Homo sapiens: one gene and its partner. The protein of the gene in region 1 interacts with the protein of each later gene in a biochemical or structural test. Each region holds a gene or a part of one and is shown on either strand. Other genes may lie near its edges.

The links.
Region 2: the proteins of TNNT2 (region 1) and TPM1 form a complex in vitro, tested with the Homo sapiens proteins (one study listed by BioGRID).

The regions. Positions count from the first base shown.
Region 1 is NC_000001.11:201,359,734-201,369,266, reverse strand, and holds part of TNNT2 (troponin T, cardiac muscle), read left to right. Parts: intron 1-1,039; coding exon 1,040-1,105; intron 1,106-1,460; coding exon 1,461-1,496; intron 1,497-2,395; coding exon 2,396-2,429; intron 2,430-3,596; coding exon 3,597-3,657; intron 3,658-3,959; coding exon 3,960-4,076; intron 4,077-4,891; coding exon 4,892-4,969; intron 4,970-5,860; coding exon 5,861-5,971; intron 5,972-6,872; coding exon 6,873-6,881; intron 6,882-7,244; coding exon 7,245-7,354; intron 7,355-7,897; coding exon 7,898-7,988; intron 7,989-9,533. UniProt on the Homo sapiens protein: Troponin T is the tropomyosin-binding subunit of troponin, the thin filament regulatory complex which confers calcium-sensitivity to striated muscle actomyosin ATPase activity.
Region 2 is NC_000015.10:63,044,509-63,055,409, forward strand, and holds part of TPM1 (tropomyosin alpha-1 chain), read left to right. Parts: intron 1-1,525; exon of another isoform or gene 1,526-4,067; coding exon of another isoform or gene 4,068-4,199; intron 4,200-4,332; exon of another isoform or gene 4,333-4,879; intron 4,880-5,538; exon of another isoform or gene 5,539-5,633; intron 5,634-10,901. UniProt on the Homo sapiens protein: Binds to actin filaments in muscle and non-muscle cells. Plays a central role, in association with the troponin complex, in the calcium dependent regulation of vertebrate striated muscle contraction.

The DNA of each region.
Region 1 (9,533 bases):
ACCAGGGCTTAATTTTAGAAAGTGCGTTCTGACAGCTATATCTCAAGATGCAGTAGGTGGGTTGGGGAGGCAGTAAGCTCCCCATCCTTGGGATGTTGCATGGCCACTGGGTGGGCTGGGGTATATTATATAGAGAAATGACACGTCAGATGAGGTGGCAGAGGTGTGAACAAGATGGCCTAAAGGTAGACCCCACAATGGCCATGTCCTTCCTCGCTAGCCCTCTGCTTTCACACTTTCTAGAAGGATCATTTTGAGGTAAGACTCCTGCAGGGATCAAATAAAAGGCATCTCCAGGCTTCAGAGAGGACTCAGACCTGGGAAGGGAGGACAGAGGGAATGAAGGCCAACCCTTCTCCCACGATGGTGTCTTCCTCCTGTCTGAGGTTTTTCTTCTCCCTCTGCCAAGAGGCACCCACTTCCCAGTGCATCAGTGAACAGGCATCACAGAACACTTCCTACAGGCACAGCCCAGGCCAGGCGGCATCCTGTCTCCCTTATCTGTTTGTCTGTCTGTCTACACCAAGTGCCTGAGTGAGATGGGGGCCACATCCTGCCAAACAAATAGATGAAAATAGAAAAATCCTGCCCACTTTCTGGATAGTACGAAGATCCAGATATTGAGTGTGCCATCCAGCCACACAGTCGTACTCTTTTGGTTTCTTTGAGATGTGGATTGAGGGTGTCTAGAGTCACTAGGTTCAGGACAGGAGCTTCTGGACACCTCGGCTTAAGCAGAGCATGTTCTGTGGTGCCAGACACGGGGTGGAACTTCTGGGCTGGAAAGTTGGGGAATGAGGTGGAGTCCCATCATCAGGGAGGTTGCCGGGATGAGTGGGGCTAAGCTGGGTGGCGGGAGGTAGCCGACAGTCAAAACCAAGAATGGCAGCCCCCCAGCACGTTGGTTGCCCCCAAATTCATCTGGACCTAGACGTCTTGACCCCCATCCCCACTCCCCGCTGCCCATTCTCTGCTCTGGGTTCTGCCTGATAGCATGAGTGGGGCCTGCTTCTTCACTCTGTCTGCTTCACTTCTCCAGAGCAGGAGGAGGCAGCGGAAGAGGATGCTGAAGCAGAGGCTGAGACCGAGGAGACCAGGGCAGAAGGTAAGTCTCTGGTTGAGGGTGCAGGGGCCTCAGGGGGTGGCGAGAGCCCCTGGAGCCATTCCTGAGGCAGTAAGAAACCCCCCAGAACAGGCTTTCCCATGTGCACCTGACTCTCCTATTGACTAAGATTCAACCATTGATTGCCCAATCAACAAACGTTGACCCAGCGCTTCTCTTGTGTCAGGCAGTCTTGGGTCCAGGGGAATGTGTGTGTGAGAGACAGCTCTGTAACCCCAAAAACCAACAGAGTGCATCTTGGCTAGGGCTTATCTGTGGGGAAGGCTCTTGCTGGTGGCGGAGGGGGGGACTTGAGCTCAGAACAAGGACCTTGATTGATTTCTCGTGTTTCATTTAGAAGATGAAGAAGAAGAGGAAGCAAAGGAGGCTGAAGGTAAGGATATCAGGAGAGAGGTACAAGGGAGGCAAAGGAACCCCTCACAGCAGCTTTGGAGGAGAATGCCCACAGTGCTCTTTCCAGGGAAGTGGATGTGCACTGAGAGGGTTTGGGAGAGGAGAGGACAGAACTTGGTGGCACTTCCAAAGTTTTAGATGTTGAGCTTTCAACTTTGCCCCTTCTCCCAGAGAAGTTGCATTGGTGGCACCCAGTGGGAGAGGGGACCATTGTCCAGCCCCCTGGTCTGGACAGAGCAATGGGACCCAGAAGTCATATCCACACATGAAGCTCCTAGAGCTTAGGTGAAATCACTTGTAGGATGTGGTGTCCGTAGGATGAAATCCCAATGCATAGATGGTCATGGTGGGTCATTGCTGCAGTCATCGTCATGCTGCAGCCTTCACCAGGGTTCTAAGTGGTCCCAGTCACTTCTCCAAAGGGGAGGGGACAACCAGCTGGGGCTTGGAATCATGTCATCAGCTTCTGCCCTGTGGCCACCGGGAAGTCCAAGGGGTAACAAAGAAGGCAAAGACCTGGGAGGGGATTCTAGGGCCAGGACCCTTGGGGACCTTTCCAAAGGCCTTGTCACTGTGAAGCACAAGAGAAGCAAAATTGCTTTGCCCAGAACTGGTGAGTGAGAGAAGGCTTTGTGTGAAGTTCCACACTGCGTGAGTGTGTGCCCTGCAGAACTCTATGGGAGGGGGAGTGTGGCATCTGCAGCCCCCGCTGCCTTCATTCTCCTGGATGCTTCTGGAATCAGGGCTCCCCAGTGCCGGGAGGGACTCACTGTGCAGATGGGGAAATGGAAATCCACAGGGATCTAGCTCATCGAGGGCGGAGTTGGGACCACTTCTGGGGCCCCCTGACCCATGGCTGTGTGCTTCTATCTCCTCCAGATGGCCCAATGGAGGAGTCCAAACCAAAGCCCAGGTGAGTGGGGAGGCACCTGGGTAGAGCCGGGAGCAGAGGCTCAGGGAGAGAGGATGATGATGGAACGGGGTGCAGTATGGTGCAGTGGACACGGGCTGGGGGTTTGGTGGGCACAGAGCACCACAGTACAGTTGTACAAGTTGTGTACTGCACAAGCGTCTCTTCCTAAGGGAGTGAGTGAGGGCTGAATTCCACCCAACACTCCATCACCAATCGTGCACCCTAGCAGGGATGGGGCTATGTTCTTCTAGAGGAAGGGCCCTGAACGGACACTCTCCTCTCTCACAGTATGGCCAGAACACCCTCCTCCATGGCCGAGGTGGGACCTTGGGATTAAGGGAAGCAAATTGTGGGGAGCCAAACAATGAAACCGTGCCAGCATAGGCATGGCGGCTTCAGAGAGCTGAGAGAGGGCAGGACGGCTTGGTGCCACACACGTGAAGCCCACCTGAAGGTGGTGTGTGCTGGGGGGGGCTGGGGGATAGGGAGCATTTCCCTTTTTATGATGCCAACCCTGCCAGCAGAGGTTGACCCATGGCACCTCTGCCCACTCACAGGCTCTTCCCATTTCAGTGGGGCCTTCTGAAACCAGCCCAAGACATCCCAGATCCATTTATTTGCCCAGTGCCTTCCCCCTTCCTGGCCTCTTGTGCACTGCGGTATCTCATTTCAGCTCCACACACCTGAGGGCAGATGGGGACATGAAGAATCAGAGAACCCCCTGGGTCTCAGTATGTGTTGGGACCAGGACCAAACTGCAAGACTCCCAGGTTCATGGCCAGTTTCTGCGGGGTCCACCAGGGGATTTGAAGTCCAAGAAGCATGGCATCTTGTCACAGCTTCTTTGATTCCAAGTTGTGTGGCTTTGAGCAAGTCATTCTACCTCCCTGAGCCTCAGTTCTCCTAAGTGAGATTAACGGTACCCACTTCATGGGCATATCATGAGCATGAAGTGAAATAGCATATGTGAAAGAGCTTTGTGTATTCCCAGGTGCTGAGCAAGGCTGAGGACTGCCATTGTTGACGTCAGTGTTACTATCATTGCTGTGGTTGGTCGGGGCAGTGCTGGAAGATTCTCTAGGAAGGATCAGGGCCCTGCCTGTCCTGGACACCCTCAGTCCCTGGGTCCAGAATGGGGCTGATGCTGACTATTCCTCTCTCCAACAGGTCGTTCATGCCCAACTTGGTGCCTCCCAAGATCCCCGATGGAGAGAGAGTGGACTTTGATGTAAGCGGTGGCTGTGGGTTGAGTAGGCCTGGGCTGGGGATAGTCCCAAGGGCCCTCAGTGACAGAGATTTTGTGACCTTGGGCTGGGGTAGAGCATAGGTGGGATGGGGTGCAGCACCAGCCAGGCTGGGTGCCCATCCATGAGCGTGGTCCTGGGTTCAGGCCACAGTTACCCCTTCCCTGGCCAGGCGCCAGGCCCTGCCAGAGGTCTTTTGCACTGCGTTGGGGGGTGTCTAGCCCACCCATCTCTCCTCTGGACTCTTTGGAGTGGCAGCCTCTGAGCCGCAGCGGTCCACCCACAGGACATCCACCGGAAGCGCATGGAGAAGGACCTGAATGAGTTGCAGGCGCTGATCGAGGCTCACTTTGAGAACAGGAAGAAAGAGGAGGAGGAGCTCGTTTCTCTCAAAGACAGGATCGTAGGTGTCCAGTCTGCCCACCTAACATTCTCTGATGGCCCAGTCTGTCCTCCATCCCTTTTGTGAGGCCCCACCTCCTCCAGACAGCCTTCCTCGGCGCCTCAAACCCAGCTAGGTGTGAGGTCTCCTTCAGAGGCCCTCCAGCATTCTGCACAGCTCCTGCAGCCCTGACTGGTTTCTCGGGTCCCTGCCTTCCCTCCCCATCCTACTGGATGCTCCTTGACTGCCAGAGCTGAGTCTGATCTGTTTCAGGCCTCCCCCAGGGCCTAATTCAGGCCCGGGCTGTGGACTGATTGGTCACAGGCCTGCTGCGCCACCCCTGCCCTTGCCTCCTCTTCCCCCGCAGATGAAGGGGAGTGTGACCTGCAGAATCCCACATCCTTCTCCTGCAGAGCGTGGAGGCTGCTTTGATTGCTTTTGTTTCTCCCCATCAAACTTGCCTTCCCACAGACATGCTGCTCTGGCTGGAGCAATGACTTGGCCATCTATCCAAGCATATGGCACAGAGCAGCTGCCAGGGCAGGGTGGGATGGAGGTGGGGGCAGAGCCCAGAAGGAGCCTGCCTGATGTCTCCCAGTTGTGGAGGGCAGTCTCACCATGAGGAATGTTGGAGGTGGGTCACTGCAGGTACCCTGGTGTGCACGTCCGTGGAGCTGGTTGAAAGTGGAGGCCCTTGGAGGCCGGGCACCATTGCTTCAAGACTCTGGAAGGAACCCTCCCCCAGGAATTCCCTTGCCACCCCATGCAGGTTTCTGTACCTGCGATGTCACCTTCTCCCTATGCACACCTGGGTGGGCTTTGCCTCTTCTCCTTAGGAGAGACGTCGGGCAGAGCGGGCCGAGCAGCAGCGCATCCGGAATGAGCGGGAGAAGGAGCGGCAGAACCGCCTGGCTGTGAGTGACCCCTAGCCCAGGCCCATGGAGGCCCCCCATGCTCCCAGCTCCTGCTGGGCCCCCAGGCCCCTCTCTATTCATCAACATGAATGAAATCAGTCAAGAGACAATATTGGCCGGGTGCGGTGGCTCACGCCTGTAATCCCAGCACTTTGGGAGGCCAAGGCGGGTAGATCACTTGAGGTTGGGAGTTCGAGACCATCCTGACCAACGGAGAAACCCTGTCTCTACTAAAAATACAAAATTAGCCAGGCGTGGTGGCACATGCCGGTCATCCTAGCTACTCAGGAGGCTGAGGCAGGAGAATCGCTTGAACCCAGGAGGCAAGGTTGCAGTGAGCCGAGGTCATGCCATTGCACTCTAGCCTGGGCAACAAGAGTGAAACTCCAACTCAAAAAAAAAAAAAAAGGAAAAAAAAGAGACAATATCAATATCAACCTAGGAAGTGCTGGGCATTGTCTTGGCTCTGATAATACATCAGCAAACAAGACAGAAATGCCTGCGTCCTTATGAACGTGTTATTTTATAAGACTCTCCAGCCCTCATCCCTTCCCCAGTGCAGACTTCGTGGGAACCGAAGGCCCCGTAGCTCTCTTCCTGTGCAGCTGCTGAAGGCATTTCCAGAGCAACAGGTCTTCCAGGGGCACTCCCAGCTTAAGGGGATGACGAGACCTCACATTTGGGAATCAGGACCTCATTCAATCACGCAGTCATTTCTCAGTCAGTGGACTCCTGTGGGCCAGCACTGTGCTGGGAGCTACCCTCTCAGAAAGCTCCTTGCTGAGCGGAGAGAAAGCTGAACTCACCCATAAAGACCACAAGCTTCAGCCCAGAATCAGGGTTTCCAATCCTTTCCCCTAATTTGCTTTCTTCCTCCCTGCTGTAAATCAGGAAGAGAGGGCTCGACGAGAGGAGGAGGAGAACAGGAGGAAGGCTGAGGATGAGGCCCGGAAGAAGAAGGCTTTGTCCAACATGATGCATTTTGGGGGTTACATCCAGAAGGTAGGTAGGGAGCAGCAGGGGTTGCCAGGAGATCCTAGTATAGCCCTGAGGAATGAGGTGTCCACTGCAGCAGGTAGACTTTAGGTCAGGTCCCAGGAAGAGATTCCCAGCTGCTGTGGGTGGAAGACTGAGGTCTCCTCATGCCCAGCCCTGAGCTGGTTTTCAGCCTGACCGCGGCTTGCACTAGGAGGGGCTTGCTGGGGTAGGGGGCTACAGGCAGAGCCTGGGGCACCAATGGTGCCCCCCATGCCTGGCTCCAGCAGTGCTCAGGAGCCCCCAAGGAGGCTGGGTGCAGCTGGAAGAGCCTTGTGCCTAGAGTCAGAGCTCTAGTTGGAGACCCAGCTCTGCCACATACAGTTGTGTGACCTTTTGCAACCTCTGAGCCTCGGTTTCCTCAACTGGCACTCATATTGCCTGCCTTGATGCTTTGAGAAGCTCAAATGAGCTACCATGGAAAGTGTCTATGTGCCACACAGATGTGAGGTTGTTTGTTCCTGGAAACTCACTCTCGATCCCTAACTTTTGTGCCCCATTCCTCCTAGGTCCTCCATTCTCGAGGGAGGAGGGATATGTGAAATTGATTTTCTCTAGGTAGTGAAGGAATCAAAACATTTTCTTAGATTTCCAGCTTAGTCCCTAGCTCAGGACTAGGCCACCCCCTGCCTCTGCCCCCATGGTGACCACACCAGCCAAGACTTTGGCATCAAAGTCTTCATGCTACCGAACAGCCCCTGCTGTAACCCTCAGACCCACGTCCTAGTAAACCCGGCTGACTACAGCGAGTATCTGAATCTTCTCTTCCATGTCTCTCCTTGCCTTTGTCTTCCTGCCTTCTCTCTGTGTCTCTGTTGCCGTCTTGGTCTTTTTCTATGGGCCTCTCTCTCATGGTTTCCCGGTTTAGCAGGCCCAGGTGGGTACCAAAAACCTCAAGCCTTCTTCCTCCCCATAGTTTTGGAGAGCTCCCTGGGAGGGGAAGGCGCCTTGCTGGAGGGGAGGAGTGAAGAGATTGGGCTGGCTGGGGAGGGGGGAAGCTGGTGAGAGGTGAAAGAGATTAGTTAGGCAAAGAAGGAAGAGACTGACGTGATCCTTCTTGCCCCTACCTCAGTTTCCCTAGGGAATACATGTAGTTGGTAGTTGGGGGGTGTGGCAGGAAGAAGAGCATAAGAACCTGGCCCTCCTGCAGGCCTTGCTCCACCCCCAGGGGGTTTGGGGAGGGTTAGGGGACAGGGAGGGGGCAATCTGGCCAGTTTACTCTGCTTCCCACACCCTCCAGACAGAGCGGAAAAGTGGGAAGAGGCAGACTGAGCGGGAAAAGAAGAAGAAGATTCTGGCTGAGAGGAGGAAGGTGCTGGCCATTGACCACCTGAATGAAGATCAGCTGAGGTGGGGGCTGGGAGGAATGGTCCTGGGGCACTGCCCGCATCTGCTCTGGGAGGGGTCGGGCCAAGGGCACTTCTTGCTGTGAGCCACCAGAGGGCAGGACTGCCTCACATATTTTCCCATGGCAAGTTTGGTGGGACCAGAGCTGGGCCCCAGCAGGTCGGGCCAACTCCTTTCTGGGCTTTGCTGATGGGGAAAGAGAACTGAGCAGGTGCCCCACCCCTCTGAGCTTCACCTACCCACCTGCACACGGGTGTCAGGACAGGGGATTGAACTAGATGCTCTCCTGCGCCAGAAGGGCTTCTCCTGCTCCCCGCTTGTTCTTGGAACTTTGCCCTGGCAGTCCCTGGTGTCCGTTCCTGAGCACTGGGTGCTGCCGTCTGGTCCCCAGGCTGGGTCAGGCCCAGGGGGTGGGCTGGGGTACCCTTGGCAGGCCTGGAGGTGGGAAGGAGGGCTGGGATGCTGGGGGCTGGGCCGGGACCAGGACGGAGGCCCAGGAGGGCCCTTTCTTACTGGACCTCCCCATTCTCACCCTTGCCCGTGCAGGGAGAAGGCCAAGGAGCTGTGGCAGAGCATCTATAACTTGGAGGCAGAGAAGTTCGACCTGCAGGAGAAGTTCAAGCAGCAGAAATATGAGGTGGGCCGCCATGCTGTCCCCGCCCAGCATCTCCATCTCACACTCCTCCTGGTTCACTGGGTCCGGTAATACTGCTGCAGGTCCCTGGGTCCCTGTCCCTATTCCCCAACAGCCCCCTTCAGCTCCTGCATCTGCCCCTGCTGCCTGGCCTTCAGCAGTGTTCCATGTCCACCGCATTGACGACTGCTTGCTGGAAGTGTCTGAGAGCTCGCTGGGGCTGAGCAGAGACACTTTCCTGGTGTTCCAACCCTGGGGGTCTCCAACACGTTGAGGCAGCAGCTCAGTGATCTGAGCTGGTTACAAGGACCAGGATGCACCAAGCCAGGACCCCCAGTGGAAGGGGAGTGCTGCCAACAGAGAGGTGCTTCTCCCCACATACACCCAAGGTCCTGGTGTGGGCACAATTAGGCTGAGCCTCAAGCTCACAGTCTTTCGGAGTCCTATGTGCACTAATGAGGGTCTTAGGTGAACAGACACCAGGCAAGGAAATGGCTTAGAGGACACTGATGCTGCATACCGGAGCTTAGACCTGGGCGCCAGTCCTTCCTTACCCACCACCCCCGAGCCCCGGTCCCAGGGCCTCTTTGCTACCTAAGGGAAGAATTCAGCTTCCCCTGGAAGGTCTCCTTTGCTGCTCCTGCCAAACCACTCCTCCCTGGGCAAGAAGCCCCTCGCTGGGCAGGCTCAGGCTGCAGTGGCTACAGGGTACTCCCACCTCCCAATACGGAGAGAGGCTGTATTGCCTGGTGACAGTGGCATGGACTTTGGAGCCATAATGCCTGGGTTGAATTTCTACCTGTGCCCCTCACTGGCTGTGTGACATTGGGTGAGTTAGTCCACTGTTCCTTGCCTCCATTTCCACAGGTAACACTACAATATACTTCAGAGGGTGATTGTGAGGGTTACAGAGATAATACTAATTGTTATTATTGCTATAGTGTTCCAACCACTGTTCCAAGCATGTCCCATGTATTAACTTACTATGCCCTCATAGCAGCCCTATGGGTTCATATCTGGGAAGGTGCTCAGGACAGAGCCTGGCACCCACTAAATGCTCAGCAGGTGTCAGCCATTGTTATGGCCTCTCTAGTCCTGTGCCTTCCACTTTTTTCTCTTTTTTTGGTTCCACACTGAACTCTGCACCGGCCAACAGGACACAGATTTGCCAAACTTTGGGGCAGCACCCTGCAGGGGTGGTGCATGGGGATGCTACTGCTCAAAGGGCACAGCTTCCGGGATGGTGGGCAGCTGGGCAGGGGTGCCCCAGAGGGGTCTGGGGCTGGGCTGCTAGGAGGGCTCCATGACACAGCCTCCAGCTTTGTGCCCAGCTCTCAGAGGCCCTTCTTATGGGACTCTCATATCCTGAACCTATTATGGCCCTGGGACCCCACAGTGGGAGGCCCATGAGGCATCCTGGAAGCTTCTCCTTGGCTTCTGCCTGTGGTACACGGGCCCCTCCTGACCCTTAACTATCCTAACCCCTCCTACTCTTCCATGCTCCTCCTTCTCCTCCTGCACTGCTGCACTCAGCCCCCTTCTCCCCAT
Region 2 (10,901 bases), on another chromosome or scaffold:
GTTTTCTTCACTTTCTTTCCTTTTGCCGTTTCCAGTGGGTGGGAAGTTCTGGGTTTGGTGGTGGGTCTAGTCAGGGTTCAGAGAACCTGGCCTCTAAATGAAAGAAATGACACAGCGGTACCTTTACTTAGATGGCTGCACTTCATGGTGGGGCACAGAGACACTTTGAGGCTTCCTTTCTCATTAGTGTAAGCCTTAATCCACCCCTTAAGATCTGCCTGGGAAGATGATACTTGCTTGGGTCTGCAGTCTGAAGGCACTAGATCCAGAAAGTAAGCTGTGAGTTATATATAGCTCAGTGCTTTATATGGTATAGTGAGCTAGCTGCCCCCTGCCCCTCCTGCTGGCCCCGCCCCCACCTGTCAGCCTTCTGACAACCACCACATAGTTGCAGGGGTGATGCACACAGCTAAGGCTCTCCTAAGCTCTTTGTCCACTGCCCTTTGGAAGCTTTTTAATTGATAGCTTGCCTCTTCTGCCTCGGAAAGTCAAGCCAAAGGACCAACTTCTTTTCACACCGTTGGATTCCATTCTAAAAGCTAATTAAGCCTAGAGGCCCAATTAGAAAAGAATTCCTTGGGAAGTTGGTAACAATTCCAAGAATGTGTGAGCACCAGGGAAAGCTATGCCAGCAGTTGAAACACCGAGAGCAACAGCAGACTTTTTTATATGAAAGTAACATGCAAATAACTGAAGGGTCTCAGGTCTTGAAATTAGTGAAGTCTTTTGTAGCATGAAAGGCTTGAGATGTATATCCAGGTGTGCTTTGTAAATGAGAACTCCAGAGACGACATTTAGGATCTGACAAAAAGAAATTTTCAGTGAAAATCAAGCTTCCTGGAAAGGGGATTTGGGGGGAAGCACTGATTTCGCTAAAACATTTAAATTCTAAACTACCTGGCTTTGGAAAAAGAGCCAAAAACCATATATGACTCTGAGCCTACTTTGTATAATGCAGATCAGATGCCTGCTCTATATATGGCTAAATGGAAGATGCCTGCCTCCCGCAAATTCTCCAGCAGGACGTTTATTTAGCTTTTTCAAAAGAGCTGCTAATAGATCAAGGAAAGATATTCCTTATAAGGAAAAGAATGCAGAGAATTTGAAAATAGCCCAGTAAGACTGAAGGCAAAAGAGGGAGAAAAAGGTTACTACAATTCTTAAGGGAAAAAAATAGGATAATAATTATTGTAACTATGTAGTGCTAACATGTCTTTATTGAAAAGTCTTGTTGAAGGGAGCGCTGGAATGGGGTGGGGCAGAAATGGGAAAGAAGTTATTTAAAGTCAGCTGGTGTGGGAAGCAGCAGGGGAGGGAGCTTCTTGAATCTTGTTTTGGTTATTTTTCCCACCGGGAAACTGCCCCTAAATCTGGCATATATGGCTTTTTTGATAGTGTATTGATCACATTCCCTTTTAGGACACTTTAGGTTGTCTGGAGTTTGGAGCCCGTAGGAATATTGAAGAAGTTAGTGAAGAAATGCTATACAGTCATTTGTTGATTAATGAAGGGGGATAAGGTCTGAGACATGTGTCGTTAGGTGATTTATTCATTGTGCAAACACCATAGAGTGTATGGTACTTACACAAACCTAGAGGGTATAGCCTACTAAACACCTAGGCTACAAACTTGTACAGTGTGTTACTGTACTGAATACTGTCAACAATTGTAACACAAATCACCAGGCGATAGGAATTTTTTAGTTCTATTGTAATCTTATGAGGCTACTCTCATATATGCAGCCCCTCATTGACCAAAACATCATTATGCAGTGCATGACCATATTGAGAGTATTCGTTTTTTATTTACTAAAAAATAGTCAAAACTTGAGGAGGAAGAGACAGATGTCACTAGAAAAAGGGAGAAGTCCGGTAAGGGAGAAGTCAGCTTCCTGAGGTGGAATCGTATTACCTTTGGGATTAGGACATTTCATTGTCATTATTCACCAGTGTAAAACACTTTTACATTTTTCTACTATTATTACTAAAAACATTTTTCTACTACTTTACAAATCCTATTCTGGAAGTGGGCTCTACCTAGCTTAGAAGATTGTCATTCAGGAGTAGTATCCCTGATGGTCTTGTTTCGAATTTTGTGTTGTCTTTCCACCTAAGTCAAAAGTGAGGCTGAAGGGGATCGAAGACTCCATTTTTTTCTGGCCCCCAATCTCTTCCCCAGTAACTGTGATATATCTGATATTTATAGCATATGAGTCTTTATCCCTTTGTAGGTCTTTACTTCTTAACTTAGGGATTCTCAACCTTCTCTAAACATAATCACTTAGGGAGCTTTTAAAACCCAAAGTTAGGATGCACCCAAAGCCAGTTAAATCAGAATCCCTGGGGATGCAACCCAGGCGGCAGCATTTAAAAAATACCCAAGTGATTCCAACCTACAGACAAGGATGAGAAAACTCTCCTAAACTCTTGTATAATGACATCGGCATGAAAATGAACTCACCTGAAACTGACCTTCCCAGGACATTAAGTCACTAGTTGGCTGCTTATGGCACTTGCCAGTGTCCAGCAGTTTCCTGGCTGCTCCTGGAGGTTGCCAGACACCCGGTTCCCCCATTCTCAATGTTGGAGGCCCACAGTCTCTGCACTTAGGGGACCAGCTGTAACCTCCCCACCTGACCAGATGAACCGCGGGGAAACAAAGCGAGAAGCTCCCACCTACAGGATGCAAGGACCCAAGCTGGGATTTGTGAGAGTCTCAGCAGAGGCTGTGAGGAACTCCACAGAAAATGAGGCAGGAAAGCAAAAGTTCCTTGTTAGGGCTTGGAGGAGGAGAGGGTTGTCAAGCATGTTTTCTTTATTATTCCCACACATAAGGGAGCTGGCTTTAAGAGCTTTCTGTGACAAACCTGAGGAGAAAAAGCCCTGAGACTTAGAAGGCATTTAAGAATACAGCTCAAGGGGGAAATCGGTGGAGACTGTATCTGCGGTGGTTTTCTCCACCTGTAGCCAGAGGCTCTCTCATAGGGTTCTGTGGCTTTCCTTGGGGTGCCTTTTAAAGGCATCCCAGTCCAGCCCAGGACTGACTGGATTCCAGGAGATCTCAGAGGCTGGTCTGACACCAAAGAAGGCTGTAAAGAGAAGAGACCATTTGGATGACTGTTTTCATGGAAAGTGAGCCCCAGGGAGGCTGGCCTGAGATTACACAGCTGATTATGGGCCTCAGCCTGACTCTTAAAACAATGCTTGTGTATTTCTTAATCGTAGCTATCATTTGAGTTTTTAACTATGTACAAGGTATTGTGCTAAGCGCTTTACAGTCCTTCATAATTCTCATAGCAGCCCCATGGGGAAAGTACTATTATTATTCCCACTTTTACAGATGACGCCCAGAGAAGACAGGTAATGTGTCCGAAGTCACGCAGCAGGAAACTAGGAGCCAGAGTCAACCTAGGAAAACTGCATTTAGAACAGGAGGTCTAACCACTGTGCTCTACACGCGGGTGGTTTTCACTTCGTGAAGTTTTGGGGAATGGGGGTAGTGCTTGGGTTATAATCTTGCGGTTGGGATCAGGCCCTTTAGGGCATATTCCGGCTCCAGACCCGCCGCTCAGCTTCTCTGGCTCCCGGGCATGGGAATCTGGACTCGGGAGCGGAGCGCTCCCGCGGCCAGCAGGAGTCGCTATTGCCCTTAGCAGCCAGCTCCGTTACCCCGGGTCACCACCGCGCCGCGGAGGGGCCCTAGAAGTGGAAGCCAGAGCCCTAGTGCAGTGGCCTCCCGGAGCGCCCAGCTCACCAGGTACCCCCGCAGCGCGCCGGGAGCGCCTTTCTCCCCGCCGCCGCGAGCATGCGCAGTGCCCCCAGCCAGTCCCGGGATCCACGGCGCGCGCCCCTCCCAGCCGCGCGCGCCCGCCTGCGGTTTGTCTGCGCAGCCCTGGAGGCTGCGACTTCCGGACTGCTCCTGGCCGCAGGGGGCGCCGCCATCGCACAGAGAGGCCTGGGCGGGGCGGACCGGCGCTGGGCAGCCAGGACAGCCGCGGCAGCCGGGTCCGCAGGGCAGCAGCCGGCCTCTCCCACTGCAGCCCTCCCGCCCGCCTACCGTCCGGCGCGATGGCGGGGAGTAGCTCGCTGGAGGCGGTGCGCAGGAAGATCCGGAGCCTGCAGGAGCAGGCGGACGCCGCTGAGGAGCGCGCGGGCACCCTGCAGCGCGAGCTGGACCACGAGAGGAAGCTGAGGGAGACCGTAAGGGATACACCCATCACCCCGCAGCCCCCAGAGGCGCATCCTCCCGGGGCAGCCCCGCAGGGCCCTCCTGCTTCCCCCCCCGCAGGCCCCGGTCCCTCGTCCCCACGCCTCCAGGGCGCACCTGGCGCACCTGGGCCAGCTGGCGGCGGGCTCTGGGGAGGGGCCCGGCCTGTTCTCCTGAGCCTTTGTTTTCCATCTCGCTGATCCAAAGTAAACGCTCCCAGGGGAAACGGGTGGTGTTGAGAAGGTTCTGGAAGGAGCATTTTCCCAGGAAGGGTCTGTTTCTGGGGTGGTGGCTTTCAGTCGTGTCTGTGCGTCCCCGGGAGGTGCACTTTGCGCTGCTGGCTTGCTTTACTCTGAGAGTGGAGAGGGAGGAGGTCCTTCCTCTTGGAGATCCGTACTTTGAGAAGGGGCGCCGACAGGTCAAGTGGGAGAGGCACTGTGGACTTGGGGCCCGGGGATGCTACACTCCGCCGTTCCCGTCGACCCTGTGGTTTCCCGGCGGCCTGTGTCTCCGAGGCGGTAGACAGACATTGACAGCTTGACAGCGCCGCGTTCTGCTGGAAGAGCTAAACTATAGTGCAAAACCCTTAACCCGTCCCTTTTTTCAGCAGTCCTCCTCCCCTTTTCTCTCATACAGATAGATAATGCTTTGTTACCAAGTCTTGGAAAAAGTTGGCGAAATGTCAACAGTTATTGGGTGTATTCTCTTGCGGGCTTCCCCTCCCCCTTGTTAAATGTAATACCTGGCTTCCTTCCTTTCTTCTAAGGCAAATGTATCCAGCAAACACGAACAGGATTTCAGAGGTAGTCTAGTATTGGATATTTGTCGATTTTGTGTGTGTGTGTTTTTAATGAAGATACTGAAACAAACACCTTGGGAGTTTTATGACAATTGATAGTATGATGTCCTGCTGTGCTTAATATACGGGGTTGTTCTGAGTTGAGTAAATCGTTCTAGTTAAGTGTTTGTAAATGGCTGTATGGCTGGCCACAGAAACTTCAAGACCTGAAATGGTCCTCTTCAGAGGAAAGCTCAACTAGAGAAAGTTTCAGATAAAATACAAGCAGGAATAAGGAAATTAATAGGCAAAAGATAATTCTCAGTATTTGCTTTATAGGACGAGTCAGCAAAAGTCCTGTGGATATCCCTGAACTTGGCTGGGTGGTAAACTAATTCCGACTCCCTTACTCGCTAGTAGCTGTCCTTGAACCATTAGAACTATATAGAATATGATGGATAAAAACAAGAACTTTGGACCCAGACTGTCAGAACTTGAATCCTGTCTCCACTACTTACTAGCAGTGGGCAAGTTACTTAATCTCTGTGTTTCAGTTCCCTGTGTGTAAAGTGTGGATAGTAACAGCATCTACCTGTCGGTTAAAGGAGTTACTATGTAAAGACAGTACACTGATGCTTGGCGCAAAAGGGTAAGTGCTGTGTGCCCGCTGTCATTAAAACTGCACAGCCCTGGCAGCCCAGTGCTCCTTCACCTTCAGTTCCCCACCCAGCAAGAGGTCTTAAAGATGGCCTGCTCATTTCATGACATCATAAAACACTTCATTTACTGCTTTTAATCAACATTTGTTGGGGCGGGGGGCTTGAATGAAGAGGAAGTGGGCGGGCTGGTAGGCATGTTTGATGGGTTAAAGTGGTATCAGTGGTAGAAGTCTGAGGTCTCCTCACCCTGCTAAGAAAGAGTATGTGTGACCCTATGCAGGAGAGCCTTGTATTGGCTCCTGGCCTAGTGATTGATGTTAGACACAAAAGATAAATTTTATGAAGGGCACATTATTACTTTTATTCTTACCTTCTCTTTTGCACGTCGTTTTTATAACAGAACTCTTCCTGTGCCAGTTGGCTAAAGATAGTACTTTCGTTCTTTTCACGGCTTTATATCAAAAGTAGTTTAAGTAGTTTCAATTTTTTTAAGTAATCTTTGCAAACAATCTACCTGGGTGATTGATTGAACACAGAACCTTTTAAGACAGCAACTTGAAGACTGGATCAGACCATTGAAGAGAGACTTTCAGGCTGCAAGTTGTTCCTAACTTCTGAAATTGGAACTTAAATGTAGCTGACTTAGGTATTTAGATGTAGCTTGGGCTGTGAGTTAAGCTAGCAGTAACAGTTTCTTTTGGCAGCAAAGATAAAGGTTTAGTGACAAAACCATGAGCCACTGCAAAAAATATTTGACCAGAGAGTTGGCCTAAATTCAAATACTCAGACTGTAATTAATAGGCCCTATTAAACCAGCCCTTACCTTGGAAAAAGCAGCCATCCCTTACTTCCTCCTAGTCTGTGTTTCCAAGGTGTGTGGATCCTTCAAAATGTTGGAATGAGGCTACTTTGCTTGACATGATTGATTCCAGATCTTGTGACCCACTAGGGTTATGTTTGCTTTTTTTCATTATTTAAAGAAAAAGGCAGGATGAATCTTCCTTTCTGAGTAGTATCCAGCAAACAAGGAGACAGGGAGTTGTGGCCAGAAGGTTCTTAATTAGTAACATGATTAAATCATGGGAAATAACCAATTTACAAAAATTCCCAGCACTTTCCCTCTTTACACTTGGTAAGTATTTCCGGGATAGGAAAACCGAGGGTGCATTTTGTGCTTGCATTGGCACTCCCAGAGTGGCTGTTAACTGGAATGTATACTCTCGATTTCCGCTTTCATATGTAGGCAAGGCAGAGGCACTACAATGCCTTGTTCATGTCTGTTCTCCCTCATTATACAAATATGCTTCATAAATTATGGGCTTTGGCACACACAGGAGGTTGTGTTTATCTGTTATCCATGGGAGTGCCCCTTAATGTCATCAGTGTTTTTTTTTTTCCCCCCTTTCCTTACCATATAAGGGCAGAAGTTTAGCTTGGCTGTGGTCACTTGGCCTTACACAGCAAGTTGGGTGAAACCTTCTTCGTATAACTACAGTTTGCATGAAATAAAAAGACCTGACCTTTGATCATCCCAAGTTCCACTCCAGTTCAGTCAGGACTTTGGAAACATATTCCAGAGGATTGATTTCTAGATTATAATATTCTCCCACCAGTATTTTTTCTTAATAACCTTAACTGGAATACTTTTTTAAAAAGTAAAAGTCACTGCCATTTTTAATTTTCTGTTGTTGTATTGGCTAAAACATCTGGATTTCATGAAAATCTAGGCCTCATAAAAGTTGTTTTTTTTTTTTTTTTTCAAATCTGATTTGGGATAATATTATACTATGGTGGGGTGGGCATGCCCTTGATTTCTATATAGTACCATGTTGGGGTGGGGGAATGGGGTGCATGCCCTTAGAGGAGGGTCATATGCATTGTAAGGCACCTCAAGTACAGAGCACCAGGAAGTTACTTAAAAACATCTGCAGGAGGACATTGGTAGCCTTTACTAATACAGCAGTCTCTTTTTTGAGTAGTTCATTGTTAGAACACAATAGCACTTTTGAAATAAAAGAAACTAGCATCCCAGATTGAAAGACTTCACTGGCAGTCAGCACATGGGCTGCTGTTAGAAGAAAGCTAACTTGGCTGGGTGCAGTGGCTCATGCCTGTAATCCCAACACTTTGGGCGGCCGAGACGGGTGGATCACCTGAGGTCAGCAGTTCGAGACTAGCCTAGCCAACATGGCAAAATCCCATCTCTACTAAAAATACAGCAATTAGCCGAGCATGGTGTCACGTGCCTGTAATCCTAGCTACTGGGGAGGCTGAGGCAGGAGAATCGCTTGAACCCGGGAGGTGGAGGTTGCAGTGAGCCGAGGTCATGCCACTGCACTCCAGCCTGGGAGACAGAGCTAGACTCCATCTCAAAGAAAAAAGAAGAAGAAGAAGAAAGCTAACTCAGTACACTAAGAGTGATTTACATGCCTGCAAATAATTTGTGTCTGGGGTCTTGACCCTCCCCAAATGCCTTGTTATTTATATCTCTGCTTTTAGATAACAGATGGTCATGTGTCTATGGGCTTGTACCGGCAGAGGCAACAGCAGGTCCTTAAGACTCCCCAGGTGCCATGATGAAAAGAACCTTAGAAAATATTGAAATAAGCTCAAAACTTAAAAAAAAAAATACCAGAAATAAAAGCTAGTAAAGGTGAGAGGTGTGGGGCTTTTGGAACATAGAGCATAATAAATCAGAATAAAAAGTAAAAATAAGAAAGAGAAAAAAGTGGCCCTGATTAAATTATAAAATTAAGCATATCTTGAATTCTAACGAGCCAAACAAAAATTCTACTAGGCCAGTATAATAGGGCCTGCAGAGCCTGTCATGGGTTCAGGGTTTTCCCATAAAGATAGGTGTACCTCAGATACTACTCCTAGGTCCTGGCTTTAACCTCAAAGCCCCTCTGCCTGTCCTGCTCTGAAACCTCTGGGGCAGTAGGCATTGACTTCTGGGCTAGGGAGTAAATGTTCCGTGTCCTTATGTGAGCTTCCTATTACCCATTAGCATTGTTTTATGAAGTTTTCAATTTTATATCCTGCCTCATTTCAAAAAGATTGTGATAATCACTTTAGCAGATGATTTGCATTGCAGCAACTGTTCTCCCAGTCCTGGTTAGGATCTGTGCCTGAGGCCTTTTGTGGGGAGTTGGGGTGGGGGCCGGAGAACATCTCAATCTGATCTCAGGAGAGATAAAGACACAGGAGTGAGAACTGCCAGTTCCAAGGTTTCCGTGATGTTCCGGGAAGCCAGGAGAAGTGACATAGTGGAGAGCCGGCATGCTGGGAGCCTAGTGACTTGGATCTTAATCCTGTCTCACACTGATGGCTGTATGGCCTCCACATACTTCTGTGCCCAGGGTCAGAGTTCCCTCCTGCCGCCTGTTTCTAGTCAAGAGCTAGAAGAATAGCCAGCTTCTTTGGGTGGTGGCAAAGGGGATTGTTTATTTATAGTACAGATTCCTGCCCTCCCCCTTTGACCTCCTGAATCAGAATCTCTAGGGACACGGCCTGGAAGTTTGATTTTTTTTTTTTTTTTTTTGTTTTTGAGACAAGAGTCTTGCTCTGTCGCCCAGGCTGGAGTGCAGTGGCATGATCTCGGCTCACTGCAGTCTCTGCCTCCCGGGTTCAAGCAATTCTCCTGCCTCAGCCTCCTGAGTAGCTGGGATTACAGGCATGTGCCACCATGCCTGGCTAATTTTTGTGTTTTTTGTAGAGACGGGGTTTCACCATGTTGGTCAGGCTGGTCTCGAACTCCTGACCTCATGATTGCCCGCCTCGGCCTCCCAAAGTGCTGGGATTACAGGCGTGAGCCACAGCGCCCAGCTGAAAGTTTTTTTTTTAATGCTCATCTCTGAGTTGATTCTGACACTCAGCCACTTGTGGGAATTGCTGATCTGGACAATGCCTAGGGATCCTTCTAGCTAAAAAATTGAGACCCTATTTTTTGGATTTACAGGGCCTCCTCAGGAAGGGGCAGCCACTCTCAGGTCTGCTGTGTGTGCCCTACCATTCCTCCCACTATATCACAAACTGGCACCTAGAAACTGGTCTCCATGCCCAGTCGTTGCTGGGGCACCCTGTATGAAGCCCTGCTGGCTGGTATTCCTGTAGGACATATTCTCTGATGTCCAGGAGTCTGAGGTTCTACAGAATGCCCCTGGGGAAACAAGAGTGGCATTTAGACAACAGCATTCTGTAAACACAGTGCCAAGAGCTAAGGGAAAGAATGGGGGTGGGGGTGATCGGAGGGAAGACACGGATGGATTGGTAGGGGCCCTTTGGGTAGGAAGATCTCATGTGCAAGGCTGGAATGAACATGAGGTGCTGTTTCCTTCCTTTCTGGTGACTCGGCTGTGTGGGGAGCTGGGGATAGAGACCTGTCACCCAGAGGGTTCTTTCCCCAAAGCATAAACAGTCGTCTTTCTGTGAGTACAAAGTCCTTGAGGTTCAGGCCCAGATCTAAAGCAGAGCAGAGAACTTGGAACTTGGTAGCTACAAAAAAGTTTTGAAAATCTTGCTGGCATTTCTCTAATAGGCCATAGCCTCTGTAACAAGGATATTTGCCATCATATTGAAAATGATAAGAAAGGGGGAAAGAAAAGAAAGTGTACAGTGCTTTTGAGTACATAACCTAGACACTCTATGGAGGCTTTTTGTTGTTGTAGGGCTTTTGGTTTGTGTGCTTGGTTTTTTTGTGTGGCTTTAAATTTTGTTTTGTTTTGTTTGCCCTTTGTTTTTGCTTCCGCTTTGAGTCTCCCCCCCACCCTCAAAAGGAATAGAATTTTACTGGAAAATGAAAATATAGAAAAGTGAAGAAATCTTACCTGACCCAAAAGTATATCCTTAATATATACATCCTTCCAGTAATAGTAATAAAAAAAAAAAGCCTAATGGTTTTTAAAAGACACTTCCCTATAATTGAGAGATTTGTTATCCTATTACCCTCACCCTTCAATACACACACACACCAGAAACAACAGTCATCTGCCAGTAATTCCTAGCTGGGTCCATTTACCAGCTGTGCACTGATAATGATTTACTTTGTAGGCAGTACAGTTGTAAATGCTCTTCCTCTGATTTATTTCACATTTGCCCTGCTCCCTGCCTCCATCAACCAATTACTACATTTTTGTCAAGATAAAAGTGTATTTACATGTTTTTATAGAGTCCTTCACCGTGGTTGGAGATGCCCTACTCACCTCTCTTCCCAGATAAAACTTGGCATTTAAAATCTTACAAATCTAGGTGAGCAAAGA